6 separate regions of the Homo sapiens genome follow, and regions 2, 3, 4, 5 and 6 are each linked to region 1. The links come from fine-mapping of genetic effects on gene expression. A gene starts in region 1. Each other region holds a variant in brackets. All regions are shown on one strand. Distances are between the middles of the regions. Region 1 holds the start of CAPG (capping actin protein, gelsolin like). Region 2 has its middle 32 kb from the start of PARTICL. Region 3 overlaps VAMP5 (vesicle associated membrane protein 5). Region 4 overlaps ELMOD3 (ELMO domain containing 3). Region 5 holds the start of ATOH8 (atonal bHLH transcription factor 8). Region 6 overlaps ELMOD3 (ELMO domain containing 3).

Evidence for each region. PIP is the estimated chance that this variant, and not a neighbour inherited with it, causes the effect.
Region 2: its variant is fine-mapped to the expression of CAPG in lymphoblastoid cells (GEUVADIS, PIP 0.92).
Region 3: its variant is fine-mapped to the expression of CAPG in whole blood (TOPMed, PIP 0.92).
Region 4: its variant is fine-mapped to the expression of CAPG in unexposed skin (GTEx, PIP above 0.99). The same link has a PIP of 0.9 or more in anterior cingulate cortex, breast, nucleus accumbens, pituitary and thyroid.
Region 5: its variant is fine-mapped to the expression of CAPG in amygdala (GTEx, PIP above 0.99).
Region 6: its variant is fine-mapped to the expression of CAPG in whole blood (INTERVAL, PIP 0.90).

Annotation. Positions count from the first base shown.
Region 1 is chr2:85,408,210-85,413,281 of GRCh38, reverse strand. CAPG (capping actin protein, gelsolin like) reads left to right here and starts at 2,916. Exons shown (of 10, transcript NM_001747.4): 1 at 2,916-2,965. RefSeq lists silencers at 2,689-2,738, 2,849-2,898.
Region 2 is chr2:85,504,817-85,509,888 of GRCh38, reverse strand. No RefSeq gene overlaps it. Among named protein-coding and RNA genes, the nearest start is that of PARTICL, 32 kb to the left of the region's middle. The variant G/A (reference allele first, on the strand shown) is at 2,680.
Region 3 is chr2:85,590,658-85,595,729 of GRCh38, reverse strand. It overlaps VAMP5 (vesicle associated membrane protein 5), which reads right to left. Exons shown (of 3, transcript NM_006634.3): 2 at 3,868-4,005; 3 at 2,324-2,782. The coding sequence ends at 2,573. Among named protein-coding and RNA genes, the nearest start is that of RNF181, 2.6 kb to the left of the region's middle. RefSeq lists a silencer at 1-93 and enhancers at 2,037-2,536, 2,537-3,038. The variant T/A (reference allele first, on the strand shown) is at 2,865.
Region 4 is chr2:85,356,329-85,361,400 of GRCh38, reverse strand. ELMOD3 (ELMO domain containing 3) reads right to left here. Exons shown (of 14, transcript NM_001135022.2): 4 at 4,149-4,434. The coding sequence starts at 4,202. Among named protein-coding and RNA genes, the nearest start is that of ELMOD3, 4.1 kb to the right of the region's middle. The variant T/C (reference allele first, on the strand shown) is at 2,346.
Region 5 is chr2:85,752,960-85,758,031 of GRCh38, reverse strand. It overlaps ATOH8 (atonal bHLH transcription factor 8), which reads right to left and starts at 4,041. Exons shown (of 3, transcript NM_032827.7): 1 at 3,075-4,041. The coding sequence starts at 3,842. The variant A/G (reference allele first, on the strand shown) is at 2,534.
Region 6 is chr2:85,377,323-85,382,394 of GRCh38, reverse strand. ELMOD3 (ELMO domain containing 3) reads right to left here. Exons shown (of 14, transcript NM_001135022.2): 11 at 4,921-5,051. Among named protein-coding and RNA genes, the nearest start is that of ELMOD3, 25 kb to the right of the region's middle. The variant C/T (reference allele first, on the strand shown) is at 2,672.

The DNA.
Region 1 (5,072 bases):
ATGTGTAAACCTCTCCCCTTTTTTCCTGTGGTGATAGGAGAGGCTTTAGCCTAGACAGCTGAGTGTGAGGAACAGTGATTCCCATTGATCCTTGTTCCCTCCGTGGGTCACAGAGTCCAGAACTTAAGAGCCACCCAAGGTATGCGCTGTTGTGACCAAAATCTATGAAGCTTTCCAGCGCTGGGGCTGGGGATGGAAATAGGAGAGTGCTCTGTGGTTTAACTTTCTTTCCTCCTGTGGAGAAACCGGGAGCTAGGGGAGTGGCCAGGCACATTTCTACCTCAGGTGCTGATGGCACATTGCAAACTAAAGGGAAGAGAAAGAAGTCTGGGTTTATCGAGCATGTATTATTTGCTCATTAATCATAGGATCTCATTTCATCTTCACATTTAACTGTATGCACGTGTTACAGATTGGGGCACAGGGAGGCTCCAGGAGGTTAAGTCACTTGCACAGCTAGTAAGGAGCCAAATTGTCTAGCTCTTATCACTCTACCAGGTTAACCGCCCAGCCTGTGGTTTTGTGGGGACTAGGCCCTACTGGGATTCTCACCCAGACTATCCTTTTTTTTCTTTTTTAAACTTTTAAGTTCAGGGGTACATGTGCATGTTTGTTATATAGGTAAACTCGTGTCATGGGGCTTTGTTGTACAGATTATTTTGTCTCCCCGGTATTAAGCCTAGTACCCATTAGTTATTTTCCTGAATCTCTCCCTCCTCCCACCCTCCACCAAACTACCCTATTATTATTGTTATTATTATTATTTTTTGAGACTGAGTCTTGCCCAGTCACCCAGGCTGGAGTGCAATGGCGCAATCTCGGCTCACTGCAACCTCTGCCTCCCGGGTTCAAGCGATTCTCCTGCCTCAGCCTCCTGAATAGCTGAGATTACAGGCATGCGCCACCACCCCCGGCTAATTTTTTGTGTCTTTAGTAGAGATGGCGGTTTAACCATGCTGGCCAGGCTGGTCTCGAACTCCTGACCTCATGATCCACCCGCCTTGGCCTCCCAAAGTGCTGGGATTACAGGCGTGAGCCACCGCGCCCGGCCCATATTACCCTATTTTTAAGCCTGGCAGTTTGGCCATGGAGACACTTGGATGCTAGCTACAGGCCATGTTCTTTGGGGAGAAGATTTAACTTCCCGTCTTGCTCTAGTGAAATTTTATCAATTTCGTTTCAATGAGAAACATTCATCCAGTATTGCTTTTTTTTTTTTTGAGATGGAGTCTTGCTTTGTCTCCCAGGCTGGAGTGCAGTGGCGCCATCTCGGCTCTCTGCAGCCTCCGCCTCCTGGGTTCAAGTGATTCTTCTGCCTCAGTCGCTCCAGTAGCTAGGATTACAGGCACCCATGACCATGCCCGGCTAATTTTTGTATTTTTAGTAGAGACAGGGTTTCACCATGTTGGCCAGGCTGGTCTTGAACTCCTGACCTCAGGTAATCTGCCTGCCTCAGTCTCCCAAAGTGCTGGGATTACCGGAGACAGCCACCATGCCCAGCCTATCCAGTACTGTATTTTCTCCAGACTTTTCCCACGCAGTCAAATAATGAGGTTTTGTTTGAAGGTCTGCTAATTAGGAAGATTTGTTCCAGATTTTGCTCCAGGGTCCCCAGGCCTTGACCCTGAACCTGGAGCCTTGTCTCAAGCCAGCCTGCTGACCAATACCTTTCCAGGACAGGCCGGCTAGGTTCTGGGCAGAGGAACTACGCTTGTGTGGCTGCATAACTGGGTGCTCACTTTCTCCTGGAGCCTCATACTGAGTCCGCTCATCCTTCCCCCAGGGATTCAGAAGGGAATGGGAGCCTCCCTTGCAGGGGCTTCCACTCCCTGTGTGTTTGTGGGCAGTCTCTTGTGCTCTCAGGACCTCGGTGTCCTCCAGAAAGCCAGCGAGTTGGAGGAGACAAGCTCTAGGGTCTAGTGACTGTGATGTAGGCAGGATAGTTGCCCTGGGTCAACCCAGGATGGGCTGTCTCTCAGAGGGCCCAGGGCCCAGAAGTCATGATGATAAACATCTGGTGAATGAGAAGCAGACCAAAGGGTAGAGACCTGAGAGGCATCAGCATGGCATGCGGAAGATGGTGAAGAATGTTTTATGGCCTCAGCCATTCCCTGAGAACTGAGCTTAGCCAGGTGCAGTAGCCCACGCCTGTAATCCCAGCACTTTGGGAGGCCAAAGTGGGAGGATTGCTTCAGTTCAGGAGTTCTAGACCAGCCTGAGTAGCAAGACTCTGTCTCCAGAAAAAATAAAAAAATTAGTCGGGCATGTTGGTGCAGGCCTGTGGTGTCAGCTGCTCAGGAGGCTGAGGCAGGAGGATCGCTTGAGCCCAGGAGTTCAAGGCTGCGGTTAGCGGTGATAATGCCACGGCACTCCAGCTTGCGTGACAGTGAACCCTGTCTCAGGAAAAAAAAAAAAACAAAAAAAACCAAAAAACTGATCTTAAAAAAAATCAAATACTTGCATTCAGGGCAAGGAGAAAGACAAACTGAGGGAGGAGGAAAAAGTAATGTGAAGCCAGTGACCCTGCCCAGAAAATGTGACTAACCCAGCAGCGGTGGGGGCTGTGCCGCGCCTGCCCCAGGCCCTGAATGGAGAACATGGCTTTCCTTGCTGGTCTCAGACTCAGAGATGCCCTCCCTGATTTGCCTTGGCTGTGACCTGCAGCGGGCTGAGGCCACTGTGGTGGGGCTGTGTGGACCTCCAGCCTCCCTGTGTGCCCCTCTGAGGAGACGGCCTGGCATACCCACTGCCCACCCCAGTGACTGCTCTTCTGCTTCAGGCCTGCTGGCCTCCCAGCACTGCCTGCCCCTCCCTGTCGGGGGACATCGCCTCCACACCGGCTGGGGAAGGAGCCCAGGGGTGGGGCTGGTGGGTGGGGCTGGTGGTTGGGGCAGCCAGAGAAGTAAGAGGGAAGTGAGAAGCCGGGTGGGGCAGGCTGGAAGGAAGACGAACCTACGAAGCAGAGGTAGGAGGAAGAAAGGAAAGTAGGAGTGTTGAAAGGTGAAGGTGGCAGGGTGGCTGCCAGCGCGGCTGGCTGGTACCCTCCTGGGTGGGCAGGCGAGGGCTGGCTGTGGTGGCCTGGGAACAGAGACCCACATTTCTGGATACCACATTGTGCCAGGGTGGAGTTCCCCCAGCCTGCTGTCCTGCCAGCCTTATGCCAGGCTCCAGGCACCTGATCTGATGGCAGCTGTGAAGCTGCCCGGGAGGATGGGTGGGCTGTGCCCATGCTGCACATGGAGGAACTCTTGGGTCAGGGCTTGTCCCAGCTGTGCCAGACCTCCTGACGGAGGCCACCACACTGCTCCTGAAGGCCCTCAGCCAGACTGGAGGTGAAATCAGATTAGAAGCTGCCTGTCCCCAAGACAGGACTGTGGTGTGATGCTATTTGGGTGGGAGTGGCTTGGGGAGGGGGCAGGGCAGTCCTAGCCATTTGAATTCAAATGCAAGTGGCACATTTGATTATTTTGCAAACTCTGGAAGACCTTGGCTGAGGGTCTAGGTGGACTGTCTGAGGTAGGAGGTGGGGAGGGAGGAAGTGGTTGACCCTGGGGAAGGGTAGGAGACCTATTTGGTATCAGGGGAAAAACCATTTGGAATCCCCAAATGAGGCCTCTGGACCTAGATTCTGAGAATGCCATGTCCCAGGCTGGGAGATTCAGTTTGGTTTCGAGGGTGGGCACCTACCTCCACCAGGAGAAGTGGAGGTGCTGTTTCATTTCACACCTAGGGGCAAGCAGGGACTGTGAAGGGAAGAGACCTATTGGGGGTCAGTGGAATCAGGGTCTGAGGAAGGCAAAGGTACCACTGGACCCCGGCAGGATTTTTGTCCCTCTGATGGCTGTCAAGTCTTTCCTTAAAGGTGTGTGTAACGGTGACCTCCTCTCCGAGGTCCCCCAGTGTGTCCTCAAAGACAGCCTAAGTCAGGACCATGGGACAGCCAGCAGGACTTGCGTCCTCCCCTCCCCCAGCCCCATGGCAGTCTGGGACCCCTAGCCCCTGCTCTCTGCCTCCTGGGGCTGCTCCAGCCTGTCCCAGCCTTTTGAAATCCTGGGCTATCCCTTAGGTGCCACCCCAGTCTAATAATCAGAGCCCAGCAGGTCCAGTTAATCAAATGCATTCTTTGAGCACCTGCATGAGGTTCCAGCTAGATCCAGAGGCAAAATACACTTCCTGCCCTAAAGGACCCTACAGTGTAGTAGTGGAGGTAGGCGGGTCCATAACTCACCACACTATGGCAGAGTGGGGAAAAGTAAAGGCTTTAAGAGGTGTAGAAGAGGCTGTTTGGTAAGGTGGTGAGTTTCCCATCACTGGAAGCCTTCAAGAAGAGGATGGTAAGGGATGCTATAGAAGAGATTTCTGCACTATGCGTGTATGGGTATGTGTAGGGCGGTGCAGGCAGAGCAGGACTAGATAAGAACTTTAGCGCTTTCTTTTTTTTGTTTTATTCCTCCCCCCCGGCCCCAGCTCCCCTCTTCAACTTTAGCACTTTCTAATGCTGACATCTGTGATTCTGTGACATTCCCCACTTAGAGGAAGTTCGTCTGCGGTTTCACTGGGTATGGTGGCTCCCTTGTTCACTGCACCCTGCAGCTAAACCATAAAACATGGGCTATTCTTTGTCTCTGTGCATGTCACCCCCAGTGCCAAGCCCCCAGCACAGACGTTGAGTGGAATGGAATAGACTCTTTGCTGGGCTGCTTGAGGAACAGAGGCATCAGGTGTGTCCTTGCTCCAGTTGAGATGTGAAGCAGCCAGTTTATGCTATAAAACAGGCTAAAGTATGTGCTCCCAGGGGAGAGGGCTGGGAGAACTCCCAGAGAAGGCGGAGGCCACTTAATGTCCTGGAAGTTTCCTTGGACAGCTGGGGCTTGATACGGGCCTGGAAGGATAAGGGGGCTTGTGTGTGTGTGTGTGTGTGTGTGTGTGTGTGTGTGTGTGTGACAGATTCTTCCTCTGTTGCCCAGGCTAGAGTGCAGTAGTGCCATCTCGGCTCACTGCAACCTCTGCCTCCCGGGTTCCAGCAATTCTCCTGCCTCAGCCTCCTAAGTAGCTGGGACTACAGGCACGCA
Region 2 (5,072 bases), 97 kb before region 1:
TTAAACCATCTAACCTACTCCCTTCCCTATTATTTTATTTACTTATTTCACTGTGGTAAAATATACACCACACAAAAATTACCATTTTAATAGTTTGTAAGTTTTCAGTTCGGTGGCATTAATTACATTCACATTGTTGTGCAACCATCACCACTATCCATCTCCAGACCTTTTGCATCTTCCTCAACTGTTGAAGCTCTATACTCTTTGAACGCTACCTCCCCATTCCCCACTCCCCCCAGCCCTTGGTAACCACCATTCTACTTTCTGTCTCTATGAATTTGACTACACTAGGTGCCTCATGTAACTGTAACACTAGGATCTTTCTCTCTCTCTCTTTTTTTTTTTTTTTTTTTGAGATGGATTCTTGCTCTGTCGCCCAGGTTGGAGTGCAGTGGTGCGATCTTGGGTCACTGCAACCTCCGCCTCTTGGGTTCAAGCGATTCTCCTGCCTCAGCCTCCCAAGTAGCTGGTATCACAGGCACCTGCCACCACACCTTGCTAATTTTTGTAGAGACGAGGTTTCACCATGTTAGCCAGGCTGGTCTCGAACTCCTGACCTCAGGCGATCTGCCCGCCTCAGCCTCCCAAAGTGCTGGGATTACAGGCATGAGCCACTGCGCCCGGCCAGCCACCAAGCCTGGCCAATCTTTGTCCTTTTATGTCTGGTTTATTTCACTTAGCACAGTGTCTTTGAGGGTTTATCCATGTGGTAGCTTGTGTCAGAATTTCATTCCTTTTTTTTTTTTTTTTTTTAAGGTGGAGTCTCACTCTGTCACCCATTCTGGAATGCAGTAGCGCAATCTCTCGGCTCACTGCAACCTCCGCCTCCCAGGTTCAAGCAATTGTCCTTTCTCAGCCTCCTGAGTAGCTGGGACTACAGGTGCATGCTACCACACGTGGCTAATTTTTGTATTTTTAGTACAGACAGGGTTTCACTATGTTGACCAGGCTGGTCTTGAACTCCTGACCTCAGGTGATCCACCCGCCTCAGCCTCCCAAAGTGCTGGGATTACAGGCATGAGTCACCATGTCCAGCCAGAATTCTGTTCCTTTTTTAAGATTGACTAGCCAGGCGTGGTGGCTCACGCCTGTAATCTCAGCACTTTGGGAGGCCCAGGCGGGTGGATCACCTGAGGTCAGGAGTTTGAACCACCCTGACTAACATGGTGAAACCCCACCTCTACTAAAAATACAAAATTAGCTGGGCGTGGTGGTGCACGCCTGTAATCCCAGCTACTCTGGAGGCTAAGACAGGAGAATTGCTTGAACCTGGGAGCCGGAGGTTGCAGTGAGCCGAGATTGCGCCATTGCACTCCAGCCTGGGCAACAAGAGCAAAACCCCATCTCAAAAAAAAAAAAAAAAAAAAAAAGACTGAATAATATTGCATGGTCTGTATATGCCATAGTTTGTTTATCCATTCATCTGTCAAAGGACATTTGAGTTGCTTCCACTTTTTGGCTATTGTGAATAATACTGCTATGAACATGAGTATACAAATATCTCTTTGAGTCCCTGCTTTCAATTCTTTTTTTTTTGAGATGGAATCTCGCTCTGTTGTCCAGGCTGGAGTGCCGGGGTAAGATCTCAGCTCACTGCAACCTCCGCCTCCCAGGTTCAAGCGATTCTCCTGCCTCAGCCTCCCAAGTAGCTGGGACTACAGGCGTGCGCCACCACGCTCAGCTAATTTTTGTATTTTTAGTAGAGATGGGGTTTCACCATGTTGGTCAGGCTGGTCTTGAACTCCGGACCTCCTGATCCGCCCGCCGCGGACTCCCAAAGTGCTGGGATTACAAGTATGAGCCACTGCACCCGGCCAATTCTTTTGTGTATATACCCAGAAGTGGAATTGGTGGATCAAGTGGTAATTTTATGTTTAATTTTTTGAGGAACCACCATACTGCTTTCCATAATGGCTGCATCATTTTACATTCCCACCAGCCTATCTAACCTACTTTTACTTATATATTTTGTTTAGTGCCTGTCCCCTACCCTTCTTTGAATGTAAGCTCCATGAGGCTAGTAGAGATGTGTTTCCTGAGTATCTAGATCCTTGTTTGGCACATGGTAGTCAGTGTTTGTTAAATAAATGAACTGATTCAGTGCCTCTGACTTCATTTGCATTATTTTGATCCCCATTCAAGGGCTGGCTTAATCCCAGTGGAGCCCTTTTTGGTCCATCTCCCCAGCAGGCTCTTTCCCAACTAGGTGTATGCCTCTTGCAACTCATCCTCACTTTCTGCTTGTATTCTAGTTGTCTGTGAGAGTGCCCTATCTTTCCCTCTGAATTATAATATCCTTAATGTTAGGGAGCTTGGTTTTTTGGCCTTTTCTTATCTTTGTTTTGCCATCTTTCTAGCTCAGGGGCAGAGACTCAATACATTTGTATCAGAAGGACACTCTAAATGTCCAGGCTGAGCAGTGCCACTGTCAAGGATAGGCTTGAGCAGTCCAGAGCTGAGACCAGGCCTCCAAAGAAACTGGCTGTGTCGCTATGGCACGTGCCTCTCTCTCTGAGTCTGGTCCTCTTTTGTCTGATGAGGGGATTAGACCAGTGACCTCTCAGGTTCCTCTTAGATATTACATGTGCTGTGGGACCGAGTGTTTTGCAGGAAGAGTATGGTCTTCATCTGTGAGAGCCCATAGTCTGATAGAGATAAAATAAACATGTAAAGAGC[G/A]GTTAGGGAATCAAGAGGAAAGCTGTGCCAGGGCAGTCCTTGCCTGGAGGGATGGGCGCCACATCACCCATCTCCCTCTCTCAGCCCCGCTCCCCACTGCTGGAGCTTCAGAGCACAAAAAATCCGGGAAGCTCCGAGAGGACTTCATGGACATCCCATCCTTGTTGAGAGAGAGAGAAAAAAAATCTTTACAAGCTCACATGATTTCATTTGGTTATTTTAAACTGTTTATCTTTCTGTCCTTTCCCCACGGAATTAACGTTTGCAGGCAAAAAAATCAACTTTGAGAAGTTTTCCTCCTTTGCTCAGCTATTTGTGTATAAATATTCCGTGAGTAAAGTCTCTAAAAGACTGCCAAGCCCCCCACCCACCCTGTTCCCATTCCCTAGTAGTTGCTGACTAAGAAAGACTTAATGAGCTTACATCCAAGAGTGGAATGTTTCAATGACTCTTAAAGCCCTCTATGTATTTTTAAAAATCATTTTATCCCTGGTGGTCTACTGGTTAGGATAAAAAAAAAAGGCTTTTCAAATGCATAAACAGTGCAGTAACAATATTCACAGATTATTTAAACAAATCACTCATAATCTAACAGCCCTCACACTACTCTTTATTTTTACCAATTGCCTTCCAGTTTTACCCATATGAACACGTAATTGACACTGTGATTATCAAGCTGTACATACAATCTTGTATTTTACGTTTTCCTTTTAACATCTGTAAACAAATACACATTTTCCCAAATGTATTCTTTGTAAATATCACGAATTAGTAAATCCAGGTAAACTCATCACTGATGGATTGCCCAGTGAGTAGGCACCAGGCTAAAGCATGTAGGATATGGAAAGGTAAGCGTCATCTCTGCCCTCAGTAAGTTTACAGTCTTATGGAGAGATCAGACATACATACATGAAACAATCCGGGACAACAAATAATTAGGTGGAGAACTGTGATGCACTCAAGTCAGGCAGGCCTGCGAGGTGGTGGTGCGTTCCCTTATCAAGGGTTTGGGGACTGAGAGAAGGCTACCTCCCTGTGAAGATGGAGGAATTGATTCAGCTCAGATGGGCAAAACCGGAAGAAGGTATGAAGGTGCTGAATAAGGGGAACACACAATTGGCAGTGGTCACTGAGGCAGCCGGCCCAACAGGCACAGAAGGCTCATGTGCCCTCCTCATTAGCCAGATGAACTGAATCAGGCCCAGAAGGGAATGGGACTGGCCCCAACCACATGGCTGCCTGGTGTCAGCCGTGGTGAGAACTCTATCGGCTCACAGTGGGACCATAGACAGGAAGAGGTGGGAATGGGGGAGAGATTTGGAGTTTCCTGAAAGCTGGACTGAAGTGCAGAGTTGACGTCCCTGGGATGCAGGAGGGGCATATGGTGAAATCAGTGCTACAGTCCCATTGGTCTACTAGGAGTGTGCATGGGTCGCTGTTGTTTTGGTTTTGAGATGAAAGGGTTCTATCCAATTAGATTGACCACAGAGTGAGGGGACTTAAGAGGCTGGAGAGCAGGAGGTGGAAGGGAAAGCAGGCGCTTCAGGCCTCACGAGGAAACACAGGTGAGGAGCTTCCCCTCTTCATTGCTCTGTCCTTGCCTAGAACAGTGCCTGGTGCAGGGGAGGTCCTGGTATTTGTGGAATGAGAGCTGAATCTAGTTTTGCAAAATTTCTGTACAAAGTTTGGCACATCTCTGTATTCCTGCTCCAGGTCTCCGTGTCACCACTGTAAGATGAAGTTATTAGTTATTTTTTCTTTTTCTTTCTTTTTCTTCTTTTTTTTGAGTCAGAATCTTGCTCTGTTGCCCAGGCTGGAATGCAGCAGAGTGATCAGGGCTCACTGCAGCCTCAACCTCCTGGGCATAAGTGATCTTCCCACCTCAGCCTCCCAAGTAACTGGAAATAGAGACGTGTGCCATCACGCCTGGCTGAGTTATTTTTCGAGTGTCACTGAGGGACAGGTCAGACCAGGAGACTGCATGAGTCTCAGGAGCTAATAGTCCTGAGCTTTGCTGAGGTCTGTAAGGATTGGCACGTGGAGCCAATGACATGAGATCCCAATTAGTCATCCTGGCAGCTGCTTCCTGCCTCCCTTCCCCTGTTGCCTGCTGCTTGGACCTCTTTGGCGTGGTAAGTGGATACTGCCTGGACTCATCAATTATTACTGCTGGAGGGCAGCTTACGCAGCAGCTCCTGTGCCCTCCTCATTACCCAGATGAATTGAGTCAGGCCCAGAAGGGAGTGGAACTGGGCCAAATGACATGACTGCCTGGAGTTAGCCATGGCAAGAACCTCATCAGCTCACAGTCCAGCCCCACTCATTCATGCATATAACAGATATCACTGAGCACATGCTATGTGTCAGGCACTGTTGCAGTGCTGGTGATGCAG
Region 3 (5,072 bases), 180 kb before region 1:
TGCTCGATAGCGGCCTAGCGGCGCTGGCCAATAAACTGACGAGCTGAGAGAGGCTGGCCAATCAGAGTATCCGAGGGACGGGCATAGTGGCTCGTTAAACAGCACGGAAAGCGGAAGTACTAATTCGGCCCCCTCTCATTGGCTTGAACAAGTCAGGTGACCAGAGACTAACGCCAATGATGGAGATCTGGCTGGTGAGGAATCATTTGTTTTGGAGTCGGAGCCAAGACTGAATTCCCGGGGATTTCTGGCGCGATCGCGTCCAAGTGTCTGGTGTGTAAGGCTCTTCAGTCTGCCCTGAAGCTCAGAGGGCTTCGACAGTACAGATGCTAGAGGCCTCTGCGAGCAAAGGCGGCGCTGGCCCAGGGGTTCAGGTTCCTGCGAGCGTTGGCCCATGGCGCTTCCGGATGCGCTGTCCGGATCCCCGCCGGACACTTCTGCCCCCGCGGCCCTCTAGTTGGTTCACCAGTTTGCGTTTGATTCCTGCGCATTTCTTATGTGTTAGGCATAATAATAAAGGGTGGGGCAAGCCTCCCCAACTGAGAGAGATCTCTTTGCCGGAGAACCTGGGGCCTCAACCAGCTCATGGGACTGTTACCTTCAGCCCGTTGCTATCCCTAGCTTCTGTAAAACTGCTGGCTTGTACTAAGACCTTTTCATTCCTGGCTACACATGAATTCCCAGAGGAGAGAATGGGCGCGGAGGAGCTTTAGAAACACCCGTGTCTGATACCTTCGAAGATTCTGATTTAACTGATCTGTGGTGGGGCCTGGGCAATGGCACTTGTATAAATTATGCAGGTGAAGCAGGTTTAAGAACCACTGCACTCAATGATTTGGATGATAGGTACTATTTAGCATCTAGAACTGTTAGTCTGATGTATGTTTTACACGCTCGATCATCCCCTCAATAGACCCAGGAGCTAAGCGTCATTATGCCCTTTTTACCTCAGAAGTGGCTTGCCCAAATTTGCAGTCTGTAAGTGGTGTTGCAGACCAGCTGCAGGGCCAAGTGCTTTCCTCCATCTTTCCCAAGAGAGGAAGACGCTAATGCGCTCAGTAAAACTAACACGCTCTGTAAGGGGTGAAGCTCCACACAACTCAGGCTTATTCTGGTTTCTGTCAGTAGCGCTCACTTTACCCAGCAAGGAACTGCTTATTTTACACACTTGACCCTGAATTCCCCTTGCCACTCACACCTGAGTTTGAACTGCAGCTAAGTAGCCCAGGCAGAGGCTGCCCTGTTTCCACAGTCTTGGTGTGGCTTTATTTCCTTCTTCCATGCCTTTGCCCAATGATCTTTGCTATGGCCCTGAAGGCACTGCCTCCCTGGCCTATATGGCCCTGTAGCTTTGAAAAGCCTGAATTCAGGCTGGACATGGTGGCTCACGCCTGCAATCCCAGCACTAAAGGCAAGAGAATTGCTTGAGCCCAGGAGTTCGAGACCAGCCTCGGCAACATAGACCCCGTCGAAAGAGGGAGGGAGAGAAGACACAGGAGAGACCCCGTCGAAAAAGGAAGGAAGGGAGGGAGGGAGATGGGAATACCAAGGAGTGCTTTAAGGTCCCCATCTCTTGCTGTCACTTCCCCCATCTGCAGTCTGATGTAAAGCTTGAGGTAGATAGAATGTGGAAAGAGAAATTGAGGAGTGGGAAGTGTTCAGAGGGGAAACCATTTATCTGAAGGTGAGAGCCTTATGAAAAATTTTTTGGGCCAGGCGCGGTGGCTCATGCCTGCAATTCTAGCACTTCGGAAGGCCGAGGCAGGTGGATCACCTGAGGTGAAGAGTTCAAGACCAGCTTGGCCAACATGGTGAAACCTTGTCTCTACTAAAAATACAAAAATTAGCCAGGTGTGATGGTGGGCACCTGTAATCCCAGCTACTTGGGAGGCTGAGGCAGGAGAATTGCTTGAACCCAGGAGGTGGAGTTTGCAGTGAGCTGAGATAGTGCCATTGCACTCCAGCCTGAGCAACAGAGCAAAAACTCTGTCTCAAAAAAAAAAAAAAAAAATTGGTGAAGTGCTTTCTTCTTTGTCATCGCATCTACAGTCTCATTGGTCCTCTAAGCATCCCCAAGATGACAGAAAAATAATAGATTTCATTCTCAGAGAAACAGGCTCAGATGGGGAGGACTGGTTCAAGGGTCTGCTTTGGGGGCCATTGTGTTCTTGCATCCACACTCCCTGTCTGTGTCGGGCTGGATCAAGTAGGGAAGGGAGAGGAAGGAGCCATCTCCCAGGGGTGGAGTCCTTTGGGTGATGGGCTTTTTAAGCAGCCCTAGGGGTAGAGACAGATGGGATTAACCAACCTGGGGACCTTCACACACAGATACCAGCTTTTAATCAAACAGCAGTTTTTACTGAGCTCCAGGTGGGGCTGGCCCAGCATGGCCAGTACAGCAGGCTGCCCTCAAGGGCCAGTCTGTGGCATGACAGGAAATGCAGGGGTGCACATGTTGGGGCTGCCCTTTGGCACTCACTGGGGTGGGTCAAGGGAGAGCAAACACCAAGGTCCTCTGGAGACCAGAATCGGCCAGTGCAGCCATTTGGCTTCTCCTTCAGGACCAGCTGGGTCAGTTCCCAGGCCCTGAGGCAATGCCTGCATCCTGGGTCCGTGGGGCACTACTGCTGTCACTGCTCTGAGGGAGAAAGACGACCAGCAGCACAATCAGGATGATGAGCAGGACACCAACCACCACCAGCCCCACGCAGATCCGGTAACGGATGTTCTCCCAGCACTTCTTCTGGGCCAGGTTCTGTGTAGTCTTGTTGAAGGTTGAGCTCTGCGGATACCCCCAGACACAAAGTGGGAGTTAGCTGGCACCCTCTTGGCCTGGGAGCCAGCTCCTCCCAACCCCATCTCAG[T/A]AAGGCTTAGTCTCCTCCTGCATCCTCCCCATCTTGTCTACTTTCTTTCTTTTTTTTTTTTTTTTGAGAAGGAGTCTCTCCCTGTCACCCAGGCTGGAGTACAGTGGCACAATCTCAGCTCACTGCAACCTCTGCCTCCCGGGTTCAAGCAATTCTCCTGTCTCAGCCTCCCTAGTAGCTGGGACTACAGGTGCACACCACTGCGCCCGGCTAATTTTTGTATTTTTAGTTGAGATGGGGTTTCACCATACTGGCTAGGATAGTCTTGAACTCCTGACCTTGTGATCTGCCCACCTCGGCCTCCCAAAGTGTTGGGATTACAGGCGTGAGACACCGCGCCCGGCCTTGTCTGCTCTCTTTCTATACCACCTGCCGTGGAACCCTCCCAGCCTGACTCATCTCAAACACCGGTGTGGCCCTTGACTTTCAGCCCTAGTGTCTCACCCTCAGTTAACAATGCCAGTACTCAGGCTGGACACAGTGGCTCATGCCTGTAATCCCAGCACATTGGAAAGCCAAGGTGGGAGGATCTCTTGGATCCAGGAGTTCAAGACCAGCCTGGGCAACATGGTGAGACCTCATCTCTACAAAAAATCAAAAATTAGACAGGCATGGTGGTGCAGGCTTGTAGTCCTAGCTCTTCAGGAGGCTGAGGCAGGAGGATCACTTAAGCCTGGGAGGTAGAGGCTGCAGCAAATATGATTGTGCCACTGTACTAGCCTGGGCGACAGAGTGAGACTCTGTCTCAAAGTAAAAAAGAAACAAAAAACGATACCAGTTTTCTACCTTTAAGAAGGTCCACAGCTTCAAACCAAGGCCTTCTTATCTTGTGGGGTCTATCTGTTGCATGTCTAGGCTATGGGTGCCTGAGGAAACCCAGAGGCCCCACACTGGCCCTCAAGAAGGCCTCAACCCCACCAAGGAACTGGAGATCCTGAATACAGCCCAAGAGAGACTTTCCCAATCCTCTCCCCTCCCCTCCATGCTCCCCCAGGCCTCACACCATATCCAGGAGTTGGTCTGAACGCTGCTGCAGTTCGGCCAGCTTCACACCACGCTCCAGGACCTTGCCGAAGTTGTTACGCATAATTTCCGTCACCTCGTTCGCCTGCTGCTGGCACCGCTCCAACTCTATTCCTGCCTGGACACCAAGCCCGAGGTCAGGGCTGCATGAGGCCCCCACCTGGCCCTCATCTGCCCCTGAGATCTAGAAGCCTCCTTCTCCCCCTGTAGGTGGGTACAGCATGAGAGTAACAGCATCCTTCGTGTAAGGGTATGATGTGTGCGGAGTGAAGGTCTGGCCTTCGGGGTGAGTGCGGCACACCTTAAGTCTCACAGGCTCCTCCCCTTGCACGTCAAGGCAGGGCCTAGGACCTAGGTAAGTCCCGGCTTCCAGCACCTCAGCTTCCTCTAAGCTGTCCCAAGGTGGGATCTTCCCAGGACCCCACCCTCCCACAAAGCTGATTCTTTTCTCACCTGCTCCAGAATGGCGTCTACCCAATCAATGCACAGCTGCCCTAAGGTTTCCCACTGGCCTAAGAAGGCAGCAAAGAATGGGTAACCAAGCTACCTGGCTGGAACACACAGGGAGGAGACCTACCCTACAGGCTAGAAAGGTAATTTTGAAGCAGCACACATCATAGTCTCTGCCTAACCCCTCTATCCCCAAACTGAGAAGCTCAGATCTTCCTCTTTGGGCCTCTGACTGGTCAGGCCAGTTCTGCCTCCTGGCCTGATCCTGCTCCCTATATCACTGCTCCAACTTCCCTCTCCGTCTGGGAACCTCAGTGGTACCGGTTTTTGGCCTCCAGCCTTCCACTCAGCTGGGGTCCTCACTGGGGTCCAACTTACAGAGATGAGACTAACTCTTGGATTTCCCAGCCTGGGGGGCAGCTTTGCCTAACAGAAAACACCAGCTCATTTCAGAGGACTGGGAAGGGAGGTCTTGGATCCAAGCTGGGGAAGGTTGAAATGACAGGGGAGAGAGAAAGTCTGGGTCATGTGCAAGAAAGGCACTGGGCTTTGGGTGCACGTAACAGAGAGAGACACCAGGCAGGAGGCCCTGGTATAAGCCAGAAGCCTAGGAGCAGGGACATTTCAGGGAGATGAATACCAGTGGATTAGCAAACCACAGAAACTCCTTCCTCTTAGCCTACTTCCCCACAGCCCATCCCTGTTCCCTTCCCCTCCTTACAAGAAGGGCAAGCT
Region 4 (5,072 bases), 52 kb after region 1:
GGAAAACTTCTGTTTAATCTGGTCCTAGGAAAAACTGCAAAAAGCTTAATTAATGTTATCTCAAAAATTTTATACCGATTTCCTGGCTCTTTGAAAGTCTGAGGGTTCTGAGTGAGCGAAGTTTAGTGAAGCAGTTTCCTATGGCCTTTCTGCTCAGCCAAACCTATCCCCTGCTACAGATGAAAAACAAAAAACCGACCAAAATACTCGGCCAATTGTTTGTAACTCATTTCACAGATACAGAGCTAATTTTTCAACGTGTTCTTTTAAAATCCTAAAAATCACCAGGTGTGGTGGCTCACAGCTACAATCCCAGCACTTTGGGAAGCTGAGGCAGGAGGATTGCTTGAGCCCAGGAGTTCGAGAGCAGCCTGGGCAACATGCGGAGACCCTGTCTCTACTGTTTAAAAAATAAAAAATCATCATTTCTATAGTTTGTTACTAGAGAAGTTTCTCTGAACATATAGAGCACCAAGAAGTATCATGTATCTAAAAAAACCATATGGCACCATTGAAAAGAAGCCCAGAATATTCCCAGATGATACAATTCTGGAGAATGGAGAAGTAATTCTACCAGTGAAAGAATTTCCTGATCAACATCATTAAAGATTATGTAAAAATGTAAAGGGCTTATGAGCCTAAGTTTGTTCCTATGTTACCATATTCACTGAATTTTCTGGAAAAGTAACTTTAATAAAGTTTAATCTCAGAGAAAAAAAAAATCATTAAGGCAAAAAAGAAAAACCAGCCGGGTGTGGTAGCCCACGCCTGTAATCCCAGCACTTTGGGAGACCAAGGCAGGAGGATCTCTTGAGGTCAGGAGTTCAAGACTAGCCTGGCCAACATGGTGAAACCCAATGTCTACTAAAAAGTACAAAAATTAGCCGGATGTAGTGGCACATGCCTGTAATCTCAGCTACTCAGGTGGCTGAGGCACGAGAATGGCTTCAACCTGGGAGGTGGAAGTTGCAGCGAGCTGAGATTACGCCACCGCACTCCAGCCTGGGCAACAGAGTGAGACTCCATCTCAAAAAAAAAAAAGAAAAACCAACCCAGTGGAAACATTAGAAAAAGGATATAGATGGTTTACACAAAAGGTAACTGAAATGGTGGCTTTTTTTTTTTTTTTTTTTTGAGATGGAGTTTTGCTCTTGTTGCCCAGGCTGGAGTGCAATGGTGCAATCTCGGCTCACCTCAACCTATGCCTCCCAGGTTCAAGTGATTCTCCTGCCTCAGACTCCTGAGTAGCTGGGATTACAGGCATGCGCCACCACGCCCTGCTAATTTTTAGTAGAGTATTTTTAGTAGAGACGGGGTTTCTCCATGTGGGTTTTTTTGAGATAGAGTCTCGCGCTGTTGCCCCACTTGGGGCATAGTGGCACGATCATGGCTCACTCACTTCTTGGCTCAAGGGATTCTCCCACCTCAGCATTCCAAGCAGCTGGGACCACAGGTGCACACCACCATGCCCATGTAGCCATGGGGTCTACATATGGTTGCCCAGGCTGGTCTCAAATTCCTGGGCTCAAGCCACCTTGACATCCCAAAGTGCTGGGATTACAGACACGAGCCATCCTGCACAATCACAAATTGGTTTTAAACATATGAACAAATGTTCAACCTCACTCATTAAAACAAAACAAAACAAAAAAAAGCAAAACAGAAAAACGTCACCAGGCACCGTGGCTCACACCTGTAATCTCAGCACTTTGGGAGGCTGTGGTGGGTGGATCACCTGAGGTCTGGAGTTCAAGACCAGCCTGGCCAACATGGTGAAACCCTGTTTCTACTAAAAATACAAAAAAGTATTTTTTTTGTATTTTTAGCACACCGGGCGTGGTGGTGCACACCTGTGATCCCAGCTACTCGAAAGGCTGAGGCAGGAGAATCATTTGAACCTGGGAGGCGGAGGGTGCAGTGAGCCGAGATCGCGTCATTGCACTCCAGCCTGGGCAACAGAGCAAGACTCCATCTCAAAAAAAAAAAAAAAAAAAAGAGTCATGTAAAACTACTGTGTTTCATTAGTCAGATTATCAAAGATCAAAAAGTCTGATAACATGTACATTGGCCAGAGTGCATAACACACTGGAGAGTAAACTGTTACCACCTCTACAGCTTGATAGTACCTAATGAAATCATACATGTTTTGTACATGCGGGGCCTGATACTGCATTCTAGTAATTTATCTAACAGATATATTCATCCATGTGCAAAACCGACATGTTTACATTTATAGTGTGATTCTTTGTCATACTGTTTATAATAGGGAAAGGCTGGAAAAACCTAAATGTTCATTAATGGGCTGATTTACATAAATAAAAGCACATTCACTCAGTGAGATACTA[T/C]ATGGCCATAAAGACAAATGAGAAAGTGCTTTACTTTACAGGCAATATGGGACAATTTCCGTGATGTATTAAGTGAAAAAGCAAAGGACAGAGTCTATACACTATTTTACCATTTTATTTTTTAAAAGTACATAAGCACATTTGCTTGTCTCTGCAGAGACCATTTTCACAGTTATACCCAAGGAAGCAGTAGCTTTGTCTCCAGCAGAAAAACTGAGTGGCTGGGGGGACAAGGGTGGAAGGTGGTTTCTTCACAATACATATATCGTTCTGTACTTTTTGCATTTTGAACCATGTGAATGTATTATGCCAAGGCCCTGGAATCCCAGATCATCCTGTTACTCTAATCCTTCTGCTTTTTTTTTTTGCCTTTCCAACTAATGCTCATTAAACACAACTTTCATTTCTTCATGTTCCAGATGCAAGGATGGAGGCCAAAACACCTCACAGCTGACCAAGCTCCCTGGTAAAGGAGCTCATGATGGCTAAGCATTTATTTCCCACTGTAATGCAATCAACACACCTGCTGCAGATCCCTCTCCTCACTTCCATCCCTTTGTTCATGTAGTTTTCCTCCAGAATACACCTCCACTCTCTTCTCTGATCAAGGTCAGTTCCACCTACTCAAGGCAACCTACCTTACTAGCTGGGGCTACAATGCTGTCTCACACCTCTAAGTCCAGTAACCCTTGTATGCAGCAAAAGTTCCTCTGCAAAAGGCCTGCATAAGGACCTTCTCTTATATTTCTTTTTTCATTTTTTTTTTTTTTTTTTTTGGAGACAGAGTCTCACTTGGTCACCCAGGCTGGAGTGCAATGGTGTGATCCCAGCTCACTGCAACCTCCGCCTCCTGGGTTCAAGCGATTCTCTTGCCTCAGCTTCCTGAGTAGCTGGGATTACAGGCATGCACCACCATGCCCAGATAATTTTGTATTTTTAGTAAAGACAGGGTTTCATCATGTTAGCCAGGCTGGTCTCCAACTCCCGACCTCAAGTGATCTGCCCACCTCAGCCTCCCAAAGTGTTGGGATTACAGGCGTGAGCCACTGCCTCCAGGCTCTTATATTTCTTTTATATGTTTCACAACCATTGGCACAGTACTAAGCACAAAATATATTTCTCAAATTTTTGTTGAAATTTTATCTCTAAAATATTTGGTGATTCATTGTGCTGAACAACTTCCTGCAGGCATCTGTGTACCTGAGATTCATTTCATCCTTCCTTTCCTTCTCCAATTCAGTCCCCTCCAGTGTCCAAAGACTTCCCTCTTTGGAACAGTTCGCATATTACTACAGTGAAGAAAATCTTTCTGGAGACCCAAAGCAAAGGCTTTGTCCCAGTCTGGCCACTGAATCCCACAGCCTCCATTTAAGACCATTTTTGGGTGGGCAAAGTAGTGTGAAAGGTAAGGCATGTAGGGTTAGCTGCCCGGCTCATACAAAGACATATCACATTGAACTGAGTCCTGAGGATGATCAGGCCAAAGCAAGCGTTTCACAGGGAAGAGGCTAGTAAGGTAATGATCCAAATCAATGAAATACAGATTTCTTGGGTGATTCCTCAATGAAATTCTCCCCACTACCCAAGCAAAAAGAAAACAAAAATCTCATAACTCACTTACAAAACAAGCTATTAGGAAAAGCAATTGACCCTGAGGTGAATAGAAGCTCCTTCTTACAGAACAAAGAGAACTATAATGAGGGTTTCTAAATTTTTCCAAATATTCTCTTAATATATTCTTACTATACTTAATGATATATCTCAAACCAACACCACCTTTCCCAAATAAGAGTGCATGCTTACCTGTCCATCTCTTAATTCTTCTTTACTATGGAAAGAGCAAGATTTTTCATTCATGACTCAAAATCATTTGTTCATGTGAGCTTTGTCCTTGGGCCCAGAAAGCATTTTAGTAAGGTCTGAGATCAGAAGCTATGTGGAGAGCCAGAGATCCAGTTGCTCTACCTTTGCCTTCCTTGGCAGTCACTCAGACTAAGAGTAAGAAAACAGTCCCTTTGTGCCATCCGAGGGTGTAGGAGGTTTCTGTGAGTGCTGAGAGAAGTCCTCTGAGGTCTTCGAAGCCTCAGCTCTGCACAAAAGAAAAAAAAGAAATTGAAAAAGAAAACTGGTTTCACCATTCAGTTATGCCTCTGTTGACAATTTTTTTTTTTTTTTGAGTTGGAGTCTTGCCCTGTTGCCCAGGCTGGAGTGCAGCCGTGCGATCTCGGCTCACTGCAACCTCCGCCTCCCGGGTTCAAGCGATTCTCCTGTCCCAGTCTCCCGAGTAGCTGGAATTACAGGCGTGCGCCACCACACCCTGCTAATTTTTGTATTTTTAGTAGAGATGGGGTTTCACTATGTTGGTTAGGCTGGTCTTGAACTCCTGACCTCGTGATCCGCCTGCCTCGGCCTTCCAAAGTGCTGGGATTACAGGCATGAGCCAACACGCTCGGCCTGTTGACAAAATTTAAGCAGCTGTGAATTTATTCTGAATGAACAACTTGCCTCAGCCAAATGCTTACCTCTTACTACCCAAGCCACAGGATGGCCAAAAGGGGACCACACAGGGGACTGTGAGCTGGATTCTGTGTCCAAAAGGCAGCAGCACCACTAGAAGGGATGGGGTCTGTTTCTGACAATGGAGTTACTGGGACCTGGGCCAGCTTATCAAAGGCGTGAGGCTAAAGGTGTCACCTTGGTGGGTGGTCTTAGCTGAAGTGCTCAGGC
Region 5 (5,072 bases), 340 kb before region 1:
GTGGATCACCTCAGCCCAGGAGTTCGAGGCCAGCCTGGGCAACATGGTGAAACCCCCATCCCTACTAAAATACAAAAAATTACCCAGGTGTGGTGGTGCGCACCTGTAATCCCAGCTACTCGGGAGGCTGAGGCAGAAGAATCACTTGAACCTGGGAGGTGGAGTTTGCAGTGAGCTGAGATCACACCACTGTACTCCAGCCTGGTCAACAGAAAGAGACTCTGTCTCAAAAAAAAAAAAAAAAATGAAATGAAAGAAATGTTCACTGCTCTTATAGGCCTCCTACCTTTCCTCACTTTCTCTTCTCAACACTGGATGAGGTCAGCAATATTACCATTTTACAACTTCAGCAACTGAGGCCCAGAAAGGGTCAGTGACTTGTCCACAGCCACACAGAAGGCATGCAGGGGAGGAACAACTCAATGCCTGGCCTCCAGTTTCCCAGATCAGTGCTTCTTTCATGGTACCAGGAAGCTGCTCAGGAGAATGAAGCCCCAGGCCAGAGCCACAATCCCAGAACCCATCTCAGTGCCACACTGGCCAAGGCCCCATTTCAGGCGGAGCTGATCTGCCTTTTGTCCATTTCCAAGGACCCATTTCAGTCAGGCCCGAGCCTAGCTCCAGAGCTGCAGCTCGTCTGGATTCGGGGAGGGGGTGCGGAGTACATTTTACAGAGAAGACTGAGGCCCAGAGGAGGAAGGGGCTCCTCCAGAACACAGGACTTCCTCTATCGAATGGGTGCCATGGTGGTGAGGAGGACATGGTGGGTGTGGCCTTGGCCCCTGGTTCTATGACCAGAAACGTCCTGGCTGTATTTCTTTCCTTCCCAGCTAACAGGCAGGTGCCCACTATGGCCTGGCAGCCTTTCTGGGGAAGGGGCAGAATGGCTAGGGCAAGGAGGAAACAAACAGGAACAGGTGCTTCTGTGACCATGCATTTGTGTGTGCTCTTGAGCACGTGTAAGGAGCATGTGTGTGTGTACCTGCCTGTGTGTTTGCATTGCATACACACGCTCTCCCTGAGAGGGCATGGGTGTGCCTTCTACTTAGATACACTGAACTTGCCCTTTTTATAGAGAACTTCCCACGGTAAGGGGGGAAGTAAAAGGAGACCAGGATGAACAATCTCATCTCAAAGGGTCTGCCAAGTGTGCACCCTGCCTTGATTGTTAACAAACATCACAGGCTGGGGGCTGGGGGGGTGGCACATGACGCTGATACAGATGGCACTGTGGGAAGCATTTGGCCAGGAGGGCATTCCAGAAACTGCTGTTATCTTCCCTAACCCACTAGGTGACCTTGGACAAGTCTCCTTCCATCTCTGGGCCTCAGTGTTCCATACTATAAAATGAGTTAATCCAATTTCGACAGGGATTATGTTTAGATCAAATGAGATGGAATTGATTGTTGAATGAAGTAAAAGTCAGTGGGCACATGAGATGTAACAAAGCACTCAGATGAGTATTCTCTCAGCATACAGAGGCAATAGAGGAGCACAAGGGCCCAGAACCTGCAGTCAAAGCCCCTAGGTGCCAGCCCTGACCTGCTACTCAACAGCTATGAGGCTCTGGGCACGTGCCTCCCCAGTCTAGGAGGGGCTTCCCTAGTGGCAAGGTGGGCAGGTGGACAGGCATCTCTCTGCCCTTCTGTTATCCTTCTGTCCTGGGGAGTGGGTTGCAGGATCCCCCACGCACCGCCACCTCTACCCAGCGATGCAGACACAGAGCTGCTGGCTCAGGGTGGGACTGACTGCTCCACTGGACCCACCGCCCAGGGTTCCAGCTGGTGTGGATGAGGGCAGAGGCCCAGCCTGGTCTGTGACAGCCACCCGTCCCCCACCCCCACCCCCACCCCACCTCACTGACCACTTTCCCCAAGCCCAAGCAAGACACTTTGGCTCAAAAGTCATAGGGCCTCTTTCCTCCAAGGATTCAATTTCCTTTCCATGGATGGACACAGGCACTACTGCCCCACCCCACCCCAACCCCCAGCAGGAAGAGGAGAGTGATCCAAAAAGAAGATCATGGTTTCTGAAATGTTTTGTTGCTGGATAAAGCCCAGAGAAGTTGAGCAACATTCCTGGAGTCACACAGCAAGTCAGCTGCAGAGTATGCAAATAAAAAGAAAAAAAAAACACCCTTCAAACCAGCCACATCTACCCTAACCCTTCCCCACGCCCTGTGTGGGGGTGGGAGAGAACTCACCACCTCCTTCCTAGAGCTCCTTCTCGCTAAGAAAATAAGAAGCCTAGAAGCCCAAGCGATTGTCCCGCCCCACCACGGGTAATTCTTGGGTTAAGTATTCTTCCGCTACCTGCGCAGGGGCACTGTCTGGTGAGGGCAGCCCGCACCAGCCCCAAACTAAAAAGTCCCGGACCCACCCCAGAACTAGGCTCTGAAGATGCTCCAGAGGGAATCCCCAACCTAGGCAGTCCCCTCGGCAGAGCTGCCTGCTTCACCACGGGTGAAAGGAAGGGATCTGCTAGAAAGACTCCCACCAGCCGATTCCTGAGCCCACCCCTGGGGAGAGGGCAC[A/G]GGCTTGTAGCGCGGGTTCTTGAGGATGCCAGGGCAAGGAGTGCATAGCCCGGAAGCAACCTGAGTGTTCGGGGCATCACCGCTGGGGCCTGAAGAGGGGCTGACAACTCCCCCGGACTGTCCCACCGCAGCGTTCCGGACCTTGCCACCACCAACTGGAGAAGGCTCCCCCCTTCCTCCGCTGACAGATTCCCACATTTCCCCTCTCCACTCCGCACCGCGCCCAGGGGACTCCGGCAGGCAAATACTCGCTGCCATAAAAGTGAACTATGGAGGCTGAAGTCAGAAGCGCAGACAGCGTTACCCCCGAGGCGGGGGTTGAGGGCGGGGGGTGCTCGGGCCAGAGATAACCAACTCTTATAGCCACTTTGAAAACTATGATCCATACCCTAGGACTGCCCACACCTGTCTGGGCACCAGGGTCGGACCGGGCGGGGCAGCTTGCCCCTTAAACACACCTCTATCCCGCCCCGGCCACTCGCCCACCCATTCCCGCAGTCGTCCCCCGGCGCAGTGAGGGCGTGCGGCGGCGAGCGGGTACCTGCTTCCTGAGCGCCTCGAAGGCTGCGCTGATGGTGTGCACCCGCGTCCGCTCCCTGGCGTTCGCCAGGAGCCTCCGGGTCTGCTGCAGGGCTTTGATCTCGGAGGAGGCGGCAGTCGCTTCGCCCGGTCGTTTCCTAGGCGACGCGGAGGAATCCTGGTGGTTATTGTAAATTACGTGTGAAATTGACGAGTAGGAACTTTCCCCGGGGCGCGTCGGGGGCGCAGGGCGCACAGTGGACTCCGGGGGCGCTGGCGGTGCTGGGGGTGCTGACGGCGCGGGGCGCGCGGGCGGTGCGCACAGCAAGATGCGAGGACGCAGACCCGGCTCCCGGAAAGGCTGTGCCTCTGGGCCCCCAGGTGCCTGGCTCTGGGGCGCAGGAGGCGGCGGCGGCGGCGGCGTGGGGAGTCCTGGCCCCACTGCGCCTAGGGCGAAGCAGCGTTTCCGCGCGTCGGAGACCTCGGGCGCCCGAGAGCCCCCGCGCTCCCCGGCTGTGTCCGTGCCCCCTCTTGGGGGAACGGCCGGCGCCACTGGGACTGGCACCGGCACCGGTACCGGGACCGGCTGCAGCCGATGGGTCCTGTCCCGCAGCCCGTTGGTGGCTACGGCGCGGGGCTCGGGCGCTTCCAAGTCCAGTCGGAAAGTTTTATAGCCGTTCGCGCGCCGCGCCGGCTCCTTGCCTTTCCGCTTGAGCTTCTTAAGGCCGTTCAGCTCCTTCACGCACACGGTCTTCCACGGCCCGTCCTCGAGGACCGGGATGTGCTTCATGGCGCGGGCGGCGCGCGAGGCAGGGGCGTGGGGCTGCCCGGGCCGCCGCCGCGCTCAGCGCCGAGGAGTCTCTGGCTCTCCCGCTTCGCCCGCCCTCCCCCTCCCTCTCTCCCTTTCTCCCCCTCGCCCCGGGCAGCTGCGCCGCCGGCTTCGGGAAGCCGCCGGGCTGTCCGTTCCCGGAGCGCTCAGAGTGTCATCTGAAGTCGCTGCCTCCTTGCCAGCATTTCTGGAGAACGCCCGCTGCGCTCCATCTGTGTTTGTTTAGCCTCAGTTTACACAGAAGCCCAGTTCGCGAGATCAGTCAGCGCCGCCGCCCGGAGAGGAGGCAGCTCCCGCCGCCACCGCCTCCCCAGCCCGGGCCGCCCGAGCCGCGAGCGCCTTTAAAGAAACAGGAAGCATTTTTCAAAACAGCTGGGCCGCCGGCCGCCTCCTTTGTCCGCGGGCTCCCTACCTCCCCCCCACCCCCATCCCCTTGGCCCAGAACCTGCCTCCTCCGGCGCTCCCTCCCCGCCCCTACTCTAGTCGGGGGCGCTTCTATGTTCCCAGAGGACAGTCCGCTCCTGCACAACCGCCCCGAGCACGTGACTTATGGGCCCCCGGCCCTTCCCCAAATCACAGCGGGGCCTTTTCTCCCTGGCCTTGCCGGCCTCTCGGTGACGCAGCTCCGACCTTGCCCACCCGGCACCTTCCCGCCGCTCCCTCCGCCCCAACTCGCCACGAGACAGAAAACGCCGGGAGCTGGGACTTCTGCTGGGGGCCGATGGGGAAGGGGAGACTCCGGAGTTGCCCGGCGACCCACACCCGCCCGGCACGGCAACCCAGTCCACTCTCACTTGCTGGAGCGGGAAAGCAAGAGGAGCAGAGGGCTTAAGACAGGGAAACTGAGTTTCCGAAAGCTCCAAAGTCACGCAGCAAGTCACAGAGGCAGAGGAGGGTGGAAGCTTCGGATTTAGGCAGACCTAACGTCTGCGAGCCTCCGCAGTCACCTCACTCCAGGCGCCCTGCTAAACCGGGATTTACTCATCTGTGAAATGAGAAATTCGGAGAACAACGCCTAAGTCACAGCATTGCTCTGAGGAATTAAAGCACTAGGCACATAGGAACGGGTCGTCAAATGGTAGCTGTGGTTGTTGTTAGTATTATTTATTGAGGCAAAACAGCTACTTGAGGCAGATTTCCTGGGCTCAAACCCCAGCTCTGCCACTCACTGAATGACCTTGGGAAAGTCAC
Region 6 (5,072 bases), 31 kb after region 1:
ACAATCTCGGCTCACTACAAGCTTCGCCTCCCAGGTTCATGCCATTCTCCTGCCTCAGCCTCTGAGTAGCTGGGACTACAGGCACCCACCATCACACCCAGCTAATTTTTTGTATTTTTAGTAGAGACGGGGTTTCACCACGTTAGGCAGGATGGTCTTGACCTCCTGACCTCGTGATCTGCCCGCCTCGGCCTCCTAAAGTGCTGGGATTACACTCATGAGCCGCTGCACCCAGCCCTATGTCCTGCCAAATCTTTTTTTTTTTTTTTTTTTTTTTTGAGAAGGAGTCTTGCTTTGTCACCCAGGCTGGAGTGCAGTGGCAAGATCTCGGCTCGCTGCAAGCTCCACCTCCTGGGTTCACGCCATTCTCCTGCCTCAGCCTCCCGAGTAGCTGGGATTACAGGCACCCGCCACCACGCCCAGCTAATTTTTTGTATTTTTAGTAGAGACGGGGTTTCACCGTGTTGGCCAGGATGGTCTTGATCTCCTGACCTCACGATCTGCCTGCCTCGGCCTCCCAAAGTGCTGGGATTACAGGTGTGAGCCACCGCGCCCAGCCCAAATCTTAAACATTGACAGCAATTAAAGCCTCATCTTCAGGCCTGGTAGAAGATGCCAATCAGAATAAACTGCATTCCTAAGACACGGGGCCAGAAATTAAAGCTACTCAACTCTTCAAGGCCCAGGGACTATTGCGGAAGAGGTGGGTGCATGAGATTGCAAGAGCTGATTTTTTAAAGATAAAATAGGTTAAGTTTCTTTATAAATTAATCATGAATGTCAAAGGCACACTGATGCAAAAGCAGCACATGAGCCCCTGCATCAGATTAACAAGATTTTCTTGAAGCATTAACCAGCCCCTTAATAAAGGTTATAAAGGTTATAAAAGGCTTATGGAAGTTATATCTTATGGTCAAGATTAAAATTTTATAGATTGTTTACAAAATTTTGAAAAATAAATTTAATTGGCTTCATGCTGTTTTTATTAGGGCTTATTGATTGAAAAATCAAGTCTCCGCTCTCAAGGAATGGAGATTTTCACCTTCTTTTTGAAATCCTTGAGTTATTGCTTTGGTTAAAAGAATGACTTATCTTATAATGACCTGTGATCCTATTTTGTGATATCAAGTTTTAAACCTTTGATATTTGACAAACTTTCCAAAATCAAATCATAAATTATGTCTTTTTCTGACCTGATAAATCCTTTAAGATATTAGGCTCCATAAAGTCCAAAAATGACATAATTTGGCTTATTTGGTATAAAAATTATACAGGAAGCATTGTCAAATATGAAATGGTGTACGATTTTCTTTGGGCTGTATTTGTATAAATGTGTTATTGGTATGTGTTCCAAAATTATGGGAAACTCCTAAAATTCTGATATAACTTAGTGTACATTATCAGTAATAATTATAATTGTTATGTTAAATTATTCTGTGCCACAGAGATAACAAATTTCCTTGTCAACTGGGTCTTCAACAATGGCTTCCCTAAAACTTTTTGTCATCCACAGACAATTGTTGTGTTGTTTGGTCCTCTTTAGAAGGTGGTTTTATAATCAGCTATAAAAGGCCAGGCATGGTGGCTCATGCCTGTAATCTCAGCACTTTGGGAGACTGAGGCGAGCACATCACTTGAGGTCAGGAGTTCAAGACCAGCCTGGCCAACATGGCAAAACCCTGTCTCTACTAATAATACAAAAATTAACTGGGTGTGGTGGCAGGTGCCTGTAATCCCAGCTACTCGGAGGCTGAGGCAGTAGAATCGCTTGAACCTGGGAGGTGGAGGTTGCCATGAGCCAAAATTGCACCACTTGCACTTCACCCTGCGCGACAGAGCAAGAGTAGTCTAAAAATAAATAAATAAATAATAATCATCATCTTAAAACTCTAACAGGGGCTCTTGAATGCAGGTTTCTGATAACTTTGGAGATTGTGACATCAGAATAGAGGAAAAACTTTCAGACTCATGGAGAGCTAAAATGTTCATGAATATCAAAGCAGAACAGGAATTAACTGCATGGATTGAACTAATTTTTTTGACCTTTTGCTTAAAACGTTGCTGATCCTTTGTTTTGTTTTTCAGAGTCTTCAAACTTCTCTTTTGAGCTATTGACAGCTTTTAACAATTTAGTATACTGCTATGACCAAAATTTGGAACATATTTGTTTCTCTCTACCTGAGTTCTCCAGAATTTGGAAACTATTTGTGAGTATTCTTAATTTATGGCAATACAGTTATTTGCATAAATACAATAAGAATCTGTTTTCACTGCTAATAGGACACAACTGGAGAAACTAATTATTTTACCAAGGCTTTGACTGGAACCATGTCATTTCTTTTAAGAACTCAAACTTGATTTATGAAGCCAATAACGCCCTTGGGAAACTGGCCTCATATTTTGTGTACACAGTCCCTGAACAGGGTTTCTGACTTGTGTTAAGTAAAGAATGTTACTTTATGGCAGGCCCAGGAGCCCCAGGTTTATCCTGGAACCTCAAGAGGAGAGGAAATTCACCCAACTCATAGATATTTGATGGTACAAATCCATGGCAAGGCTTGGCTTTAAAAAAAAGTCTTGCCTGAGATTCCTTCTATATAACAAAGTTCCATCAAAGCCAATTTTTAAAAAAAGCCTATGTGAAAAATAACTATTCTTGCTGTACTTTATA[C/T]AAATAATCTGGCTAAGTATTATAAAGCAAATCGGTCCTACCATGATTTGTCTTTAGTAAAAACAGGAAACTGGAGAAAGAAAAATTATGTTTCAAAAACTATAGTACACCTGTCATTAGATCCTAGTCTTGCCTAATGTTTTTCAATTTTAATAATTTTCTACAGTTTGGGCTGAATTCTAATTTTTCTTGGCTACAAGTCTTCAAAATAATGTTTTCAGCCAGGCACGGTGGCTCACACCTGTAATCCCAGCACTCTGGGAGGCTGAGGCGGGCAGATCACGAGGTCTGGAGCTCGAGACCAGCCTGACCAACATGGTGAAACCCCGTCTTTACTAAAAATACAAAAATTAGCCGGACGTGGTGGCATGTGCCTATAATCCCAGCTACTCAGGAGGCTGAGGCAGGAGAATCACTTGAACCTGGGAGGCGAAGGCTGCAGTGTGCTATCGCGCCACTGCACTCCAGCCTGGGCAACAGGACACAGCGAGACTCCGTCTCCAAAAAAACAAAACAAAACAAAACAAAATAATGTTTTAAATTTCTTTTCCTCCTTTTTTTTTCCATTTTCCTAATTTGGAGTCACTGAAAATTAAGCCGTACTTTCTTACAGCCCTGCAAACTGAAGCCAGACAACTTCAGAAGAAAATAACAGCAACCTATTTACATACATAAGCCACTTTCATACCTGCCTACTGATGTATAGACTTCAGAAGAATGTGGCCTATATTGATATCCAGGATTGTTCTTTTGTTTGTTGTTGTTGTTTTCACTTCCTCCCCGTATTTTCTCTTCATAGGACATGAGACTTCACAACCTTCTAAAAATGAACTTTCCTAATAACTCGGGGACCTATCCGTCTAGGAATAAACCATCCTAGCCGTAAGAGATCAGATGAAACCTAAGACCAGAGATTCATTTTCTTCTAAAATGCTTTCTCCAAAAGATTTTAAAAAAGAAAAGGGGGAAAATGTGAAAGGAAAATATCTTGGGCCCCCAAAATCACTAAGCTAAAGGGAAATGTCAAGCCAGGAACTGCTTAGGGCAAACCTGCCTCCCATTCTATTCAAAGTTGCCCCTCTGCTCACTGAGATAAATGCATATCTGATTGCCTCCTTTGGAGACCCTAAGCAGAAACTCAAATGTAATTATTTGTCTCTTATCTACCTATGACCTGAAAGTCCCCTCCCTGCTTCGAGTCCTCCCGCTTTTGCTTCTAGTTGTCCCGCCTTTCTGGACTGAATGAATGTTCATTCTTACATATGTTAATTGATGTCTCATGTCTCCCTAAAATGTATAAAACCAAGCTGTGCTCTGACTATCTTGGGCACATATCATCAGGACCTCCTGAGGCTGTGTCACGGGCATGTGTTCTCAACCTTGGCAAAATAAACTTTCTAAATTAACTGAGACCTCAGATTTTCAGGGTCACACTGTAAAAAGTAAAGTAGACGTTCCTCTTCAAAGACTTTCCTCCCCATCTAATTAAGATAAATAGTAACTTCTCTTAGAAGCAAAATTTATTCAAAGACCTCTGCTAACGTTCTTAAATATCTGCTAGCCATAATGAAGAAGTCACTGTACTTTATGTTCTTAGCTCCCACAATTTAGCCTAAATATTTGCCCTGGCATGCTTATACTGGTCCAAGCAAGCATTAAGTCATAGCCTATTCTTCTTCCTTATTTGAAGGTGTTTTTACCTTTCTCAGCATTCCACAAGTTATTTCTTCCTTCCTTTGTTCTCCTCTTCCTTTGCTTCTTTTAAAAAGTTCTAAGTTGCTAGCCAATCAAGACAAATACGAATGTGAAGTCCCATTCCAGCCAATAGAAACCGGACACAGCAGTAAAGTATATGGGTCAAGTTATAAATGATCCTGTCTCATTTATTCAGTGTACTCTCGTGGCAAAACTGCTAGTGAGTGTACCCTTTCTGCAGAAAGTAAAAAAAATCCTTGCTGAAGAAATTAAATTTATGTTCAAGTGCTATTTCTTTACGGCACCAAAGAACAAGCATTTCTAACAACACTATGATTTCCATTCTGCAGATGAGGGAATCAAGGCTCTGAGGAGTCGAGGAACTTGCTTGAGCTACACAGCTAATGAGCGGTACAGCTCATATTTCAATGCAGGTCAGACTGACGGGGAAGCCCATTCCTGGTTTATCTCAGCTGTCCTGGGAGCCCTCTCGGCCACTCAGGTCCTAGCTCCACGGCCCTTTCCTTTCCTCTGGCTTCCCACCAAAGTCTCACCTGGATGTGGTGACGAGACAGGCGGAAAATCTCCTGCGCCATCGGCAAGGTCTTTGAGTCCATCACCAGGTAGAGCAGATGCAGGAGGGCAAGGAAGCCTGCGCCTCTCAGGTCTGTGGCTGGATTCGCTCCTGTAACAGAGACCGTGAGGA